Homo sapiens: one gene and its partner. The protein of the gene in region 1 purifies or fractionates together with the protein of each later gene. This does not show direct contact. Each region holds a gene or a part of one and is shown in the gene's direction. Other genes may lie near its edges.

Region 1 (3,500 bases):
GTCTTAAGTTTAGAAAAGAAAAAGAATTTGTACGAAATTAGAAACATTACAGACCAACTTATTAGTTCTAGCACACCTTAATTACTATTCAAAGAACAGTCTTTCGGCATGGCGTGGTGGCTCACACCTGTAATCCCAGCACTTTGGGAGGCTGAGGCGGGCGAATCAGTTGAGGTCAGGAGTTTGAGACCGGCCTGGCCAACATGGCGAAACCTTGTCTGTACTAAAGATGGAAAAATTAGCCGGGCGTGGTGGCGGGCACCTGTAATCCCAGCTACCGGGAGGCTGAAGTGGGAGAATTGCTTGGACCTGGAAGGCGGAGGTTGCAGTGAACGGAGATCACGCCATTGCACTCCAGCCTGGGCAACAGAGCAAGACTCTACCTCAAAAAAGAAAAAAGAAAAAAAAAAAAGAACAGTCTTTTCAATACCCAAATCACTTCATTAAAAATAAAGACAGCAAGATAATCACATGGATAGCCCAGGAGCCCCAACTACTTTATTGAGCTCACTGTAGGAATGAGATTAGGAAGCTATAAAATTAAGACCCAGGATAGGCATGGTGGCTCACATCTGTACAAAAATTAGCCAGGCGTTTTGGTGGTCCTGGCTACTTGGTGGCTGAGGATCGTTTGAGCCCAGGATTTTGAGGCTGCGGTGGGCTATGATCACGACACTGCACTCTAGCCTGGGTGAAGGAGGGAGACCCCATCTCTAAAAAAGGAAAGAAAAAAATCTTGGAGCCATTAGGATTTAACCAGAATTATAGGAAAAAATTTGTAAGACATTATTTCTGATGGAAACATGAAAAGTAAAAATAATATGCAACACTATCCTTTTTTAAAATTTGAAATATGTTGGTTGGGTGCAGTGGCTCACACCTTTAATCCCATCACTTTGGGAGGCTGAGGCAGGCAGATCATCTGAGGTCAGGAGTTTGAGACCAGCCTGGCCAATATGGTGAAACCGTCTGTACTAAAAATACAAAAATTAGCTGGGTGTAGCAGCGCTAGTCCCAGCTACCTGGGAGGCTGAGGTGGGAGAATCACTTGAAACTGGGAGGCAGAGGTTCCAATGACCTGAGATCATGCCACTGCACTCCAGCCTGGGTGACAAAGTGAGACCCTGTCTCAAAAAAAAAAAAAAAAAAAAAAAAAAAAATTGAAATATGTTGTTCAGTGCTTGTAACATTGTAATTATTACATATTATTTATATGCTTTATTTTTTCAACAGATCAGCTGGATACTCTTGTTACCAGAATTCCAAAGGTTCTGGTGAGTAGTGCATATAAAGCAGATAATACTTATAAGTAACATGGTTCTGAGAAGCCTATTTGTCTGTAACTACTTACACAATAGAGTTTTTTTCTTTTTTCTTTTTTTTTTGAGATGGAGTCTCACTCTGTTGCCTGGGCTGGAGTGCAGTAGTGCGATCTGGGCTCACTGCAACCTCTGCCTCCTGGGTTCAAGCGATTCTCCTGCCTCAGCCTCCTGAGTAGCTGGGACTACAGATGCGTGCCACCATGCCTGGCTAATTTTTCTATTTTTAGTAGAGACAGGGTTTCGCCATGTTGGCCAGGCTGGTCTGGAGCTCCTGACCTCAGGTGATCCACCTGCCTCCGCCTCCCAAAGTGCTGGGATTACAGGCATGAGCCACCACACCCAGCCCACAATAGAGTTAAAAATAGATTGTATTAGCATCCTTGGTGAACTTAGTCTTTAAGATTTCAAAGAGCAATCAGGGAGGTTTTTCTTGTCTGTTGGTACAGTATATTTTACATCAAGCATTTTTAAAATTAGCAGTGAATCCTAAAAGAACTGTATTTATAGCTGACGTTGGTTGAAAAGCACAGAGCACAGCCTGGGGTTTATACATGGATAGAAGAAAAAAATTCTAAATTGAATAGCTTCAAAGAATACAAAATATTTCTCAGTGCTGATGTTTTCCTCTCACTTGAAATAAAGAATAGAGCTTTCAAAGTATTCACCTCTTCTCTGCTGGAGTTAAGAGAGTAGGTAAAACAATCCCCCAAAGGTCTCTCACTAATTGCTTTTTTTCCCTTGGGAGAGGAGCTGGAATTAACTGACTGTAGGAGTGTGTGTGTATGTATATATATTTTAAGTATAGTAGTTATAATAGGTTTTAAATGTTTCATTTAAATTCAGTGATACATAAACCTGGGTTCACTTTGCTTTTCCTTGGTAAATATATAGTCATTACAGTTACCTGGGAAAAAAATATACAGACATATATGTGTGCATATATACATATATAAATAAATAATATGGTCATTTAAAAAATGTGTTGCAGTCTGGGTTCATTAATTTAGATTCCTCACCAAAATTCTTACTGAATTATAGTTCAGTGTAAAAAAGAAAGGAAACACAAAACAATATAATTATTAGTAATATATTCCAGATGTGGAGGGAAATAAAGAAATATTAACAATTATCAGTATATTAGATTGACTTAGTTATATAAAAGAAAAATTTCTAAACAAATATATGCCTAGTAAAAACTCTGAAAGGCAATATGTCAAAGTGTTTTAAAATAATTACTACTAGGCCGGGCACGGTGGCTCACACCTGTAATCCCAGTACTTTGGGAGGCCGAGGTAGGTGGATCACCTGAGGTCAGGAGTTCAAGACCAGCCTGACCAACATGGTGAAACCCCGTCTCTGCTAAATATACAAAAAAATTAGCCAGGTGTGGTGGTGCACGTCCGTAGTCCCAGCTACTCGGAAGGCTGAGGCAGGAGAATCACTTCAACTCAGGAGGCGGAGGTTGCAGTGAGCTAAGATCATGCCACTGCACTTGAGCCTGGGCGACAGAGCGAGACTCTGTCTCAAAAAAAAAAAAAAAAAAAAAAAAAAAATGCTGGGCGCCGTGGCTCACGCCTGTAATCCCAGCACTTTGGGAGGCTGAGGCGGGCAGATCACCTGAGGTCAGAAATTCGAGACTAGCCTGACCAACATAGAGAAACCCCGTCTCTACTAAAATAAAAAATCAGCTGGGTGTGGTGGTGCATCCCTATAATCCCAGCTACTCCAGGCAGGAGAATCGCTTGAACCTGGGAGGCAGAGGTTGCGGTGAGCCGAGATCGCGCCATTGAACTCCAGCCTGGGCAACAAGAGTGAAACTCCATCTCAAAAAAAAAAATTAATTAAAAAAAATTACTACTAGATTGTGGAATTAAAAGTTTTTATTTTCTTTTTATACACTTAGTTTACTTCACTAATCTGCAGTGAACAATGTGTATTGCTGTTTATAATTGGAGGGGAAAAGGGCCAGTATTCAGCAAGTGCTTGATTGTCTTCCTCTATAGTTGAACTTAAGGATTCATTCTATTATTTAAAATAAACACGATAGCCAACTACTGGCAGTGACTCTAGATATTACTGTTATTATTATTTTTGAGACGGAGTCTCACTCTGTCGCCCAGGCTGGAGTGCAGTGGTGTAATCTTGGCTTATTGCAACCTCGGTCTCCCAGGTTCAAGC
Region 2 (3,500 bases), on another chromosome or scaffold:
GCTAGGATTACAGGCATGAGCCACCACGCCTGGTGACCCTGTCTTTTAAAAAAGAAAAAAAAAAAATTGTTTCATTTACACTTTATACACATAGGCTGAAAGTAATTTGATACAATATTTTTAATAATTTTGTGCCTGAAACAACGTTTTGACCGCATTTTGACTGTGTGTCAGGTGTGGAATTTTCTACTTGTGGTGTCAGCGTTTCAAAAGTTTCAGATTTTGGAGGATTTCAGATTTTTGCATTAGGGATGCTTGACCTGTAGTAGAAAAGCTTTGCCTGGTGTGACAGGAAGACTCAGAGGCATTTAAGAGGAAAGAGAATATTTATTTGTAAAAAATCCAAGGCAGCCAGAAGATGACTTGACAAAAAAATCAAACTAAACAAAACCACAATAAGCATTTAAAAGAACAAAATGCTGCAAAGATACCAAAGTTACCAAGTTCAAATTGGTATGTTTGTGGTGGAAAACAATGACTCTCTAACATGTTTATTATATTCACAAAGGTTGTGTTGTATTTTCAGATCTCAGCATATGAAAAATCAGGGATAAAATGGTTTTAGTTGAGAAGTCCAACTTTAAGGGTAAATTTCAAAGTGTTATTCTTTGAGGACCAGGACCATATAGAATGATCTTACTAACTTTTGGTTTATCTTAAGTTGCAGTGTTTCCCTCCTCATGACTGTGGTATGTGAAGTGCTTAGTCATATTAGAAGCCCTGCTGAGGCAGGGAGAGAAAATGGTCATCACAATAGAGACACTGGCATGGGACAACATGGGACCATGAGAGCTGGCCTGGGGTACTGGCTGCTTTTCCTCATGATTTGTGGCATTTTAGTAAACCTGTCCACCTGCCTATTGTGCCATTCATAGGTGAGAAAGAGAATTGGTATTTCTAGACCAAGAGCTGGTATGGCTAGCCAATTTCAAGTTTCCCTATCCAGTGATCTTTCCACTTAATGGTTCCATTGTCATACTTTTTAGGAACTCGTGGATCAGCTCTACTCATTTCGAGACTGCTATTTCGAGACACATAGTGTTGAGGATGCTGGGAGGAAGCAACAGGATGTGCAGAAGGAGATGGAGAAAACCCTACAGCAGATGGAAGAAGTAGTGGGTATGAGCCCTAGAGATTGTACAACCCCCATCCTTCAGTGAAATGTGATTGACCTTTGCTCCCTCCTCATTGACTCTTTGGTATCCTATCTGTTACTGCTATAGGGTAGTACAACGTAATACTACTTCTCAGGGCCCCTGTGCAACCTTTCATTCCCTAAGCCACTTTTCCTAAAATTTGATTATAGCAAATGGCATGAAATGAAAGAGCATACTTACTTGAACTATTGCAGTAATCTGACTTTCTGCCTCTAATTTCTTTTACTTTCAAATCCACTTATATAATACCATGGCCATGGCTATCTTTCTAAATCATTACTTCATGCATTTAACCTTATCCTCTCATCTGCCTTTTTGCTCAGGTATCTTTAAAGATTCCTGCTATTGACTAGCTGAAGTCTAACCCCCTTAACCTGGTATTTAAGTGTCCATTGTTTTACTCTGTTTTCTAACCTTATCTCTGACTAATTACTTGTAGAGGAACTTTCTGTTTCATCCAGGTTGAACTGTCTATTCTCCCATGAACATGGCCACATGTACTTCTGATTCTGTGTCTTTGTTTATATCATTTTCTAACCTGGAGGGTCTTTTCTTCTCTCTCTCTGTTTTGTTTTAACGATAACTATTTGTCCTGACTCATCTTCTCTTCACTTGTTAAAGCCCATTCATTGGGCTAATGCCATATGCTCTTTTTCATGGTTTTAATTTTCCATGTTTACGCTTTGTCTTCTCCACTAGATTGTAAACCCCTCTAGGAAAGTTAGCAACCGAGCTGATCCTTGTAGATAGGGGCCCAAGAAACAGATGGCAGAAGCTCTAGAAATAGTGCTTTCTTTGTTGCCTAATTAGCTAACATACACTCTGCCTATGGTGAGCTTTCAATAAATGGTTTATTGATAAATATTTTCCCCAACTCTTTTTATTCCTAAAACTGACGTGTAGTTATTTTTTGAGAGAAAGTGCCCTGGTCTTTAACTTGTTTTTTTCCCACTTTATCTTTTTTTCTTCCTCTTAGGTTCTGTCCAGGGCAAGGCACAAGTTCTAATGCTAACTGGGAAAGCACTAAATGTGACTCCTGACTATAGCCCTAAGGCTGAGGAGCTTCTGTCAAAGGCTGTGAAGCTGGAGCCCGAGCTGGTGGAAGCCTGGAACCAGCTGGGTGAGGTGTACTGGAAAAAAGGGGATGTTGCAGCTGCCCACACCTGCTTCTCAGGAGCCCTCACCCATGTGAGCTGCCCCCTATCCCTTTGGAAAGCAGAGATGGGAAGGATGAATTTCTTTGGTTCTATGAGTTTCCCTAGGACATGAATACCAGAGTAGAACTGAAATTGAACTAGGACAGAATCAGGAGGGAGGAAAGGTCAGAGAGCAGACCTGAATGAGGAAAATAGAGGCAGGGGCCTGGGAAAGGAAGATGATGATGGGATCAGGTTCAGGGGGAGAAAGGAAGTGAAGAAAAGCTAGCAGCTAAGCTGATCCCTGTGGATGGGGGTTGAAGATACAGATGGCAGCAAGAATTTAGATGAAAAAATTAGGGCTGGGTGTGGTAGCTTACACCTGTAATCCTAGCACTTTGAGAGGCCGAGGCAGGAGGATCACTTGAGCTCAGGAGTTTGAGACCAGCCTAGGCAACATGGTGAGACCTTGTCTCTACAAAAAAAAAAAAAAAAAAAAAAAATATATATATATACATGGACCAGACGTGGTGACTCATGCCTGTAATCCCAGCACTTTGGGAGGCCAAAGTGGGGAGATCATTTGAGGTCAGGAGTTCGAGACCAGCCTGGCCAACATGGTGAAACCCTGCCTCTACCAAAAAATACAAAAATTAGATGGGCATGGTTGTATGTGCCTGTAATCCCAGTTACTCAGGAGGCCAAGGCACAAGAATCACTTGAACCCAGGAGGTGGAGGTTGCTGTGAGCTGAGATCGTGCCTCTGCACTCCATCAGAGTGAGACCCTGTCACAAAAAGAAAAATACGGCCAGGCGTGGTGGCTCACACCTGTAATCCCGCGCTTTGGGAGGCTGAGGCAGGCAGATCACTTGAGGTCAGGAGTTCAAGACCAGCCTGGCCAACATGGTGAAACTCAGTCTCTACTAAAAATATAAAAATTAGCCGGGCATGGTGGTGCATACCTGTAGTCCCAGCTACTTGGGAAGCTGAGGCAGGAGAAAGACTTAACTCGGGAGGCAAAGGTTGCAGTGAGCCGAGATCACGCCATTGCACTTCAGCCTGGGTGACAGAGCAAGACTCCACCTCAAACAAAACAAAACAAAAAACTTAGAAAGGTAAAAAATTAGATTTAGAAGACTGAGTTCAGAATAGATCTGGAAAGGGGAGGTAGAATCAGGAAGATTGAGTATGTGCCCTTCCTATTTG

The links. Proteins that work in one complex are often made in the same cells at the same time.
Region 2: the proteins of FAM216A (region 1) and TTC5 purify together in Homo sapiens (affinity purification with mass spectrometry; one large-scale study listed by BioGRID and IntAct). This does not show direct contact.

Annotation. Positions count from the first base shown.
Region 1 is NC_000012.12:110,471,845-110,475,344, forward strand, and holds part of FAM216A (protein FAM216A), read left to right. Parts: intron 1-1,233; coding exon 1,234-1,274; intron 1,275-3,500.
Region 2 is NC_000014.9:20,299,452-20,302,951, reverse strand, and holds part of TTC5 (tetratricopeptide repeat protein 5), read left to right. Parts: intron 1-986; coding exon 987-1,119; intron 1,120-2,133; coding exon 2,134-2,345; intron 2,346-3,500. UniProt on the Homo sapiens protein: Cofactor involved in the regulation of various cellular mechanisms such as actin regulation, autophagy, chromatin regulation and DNA repair.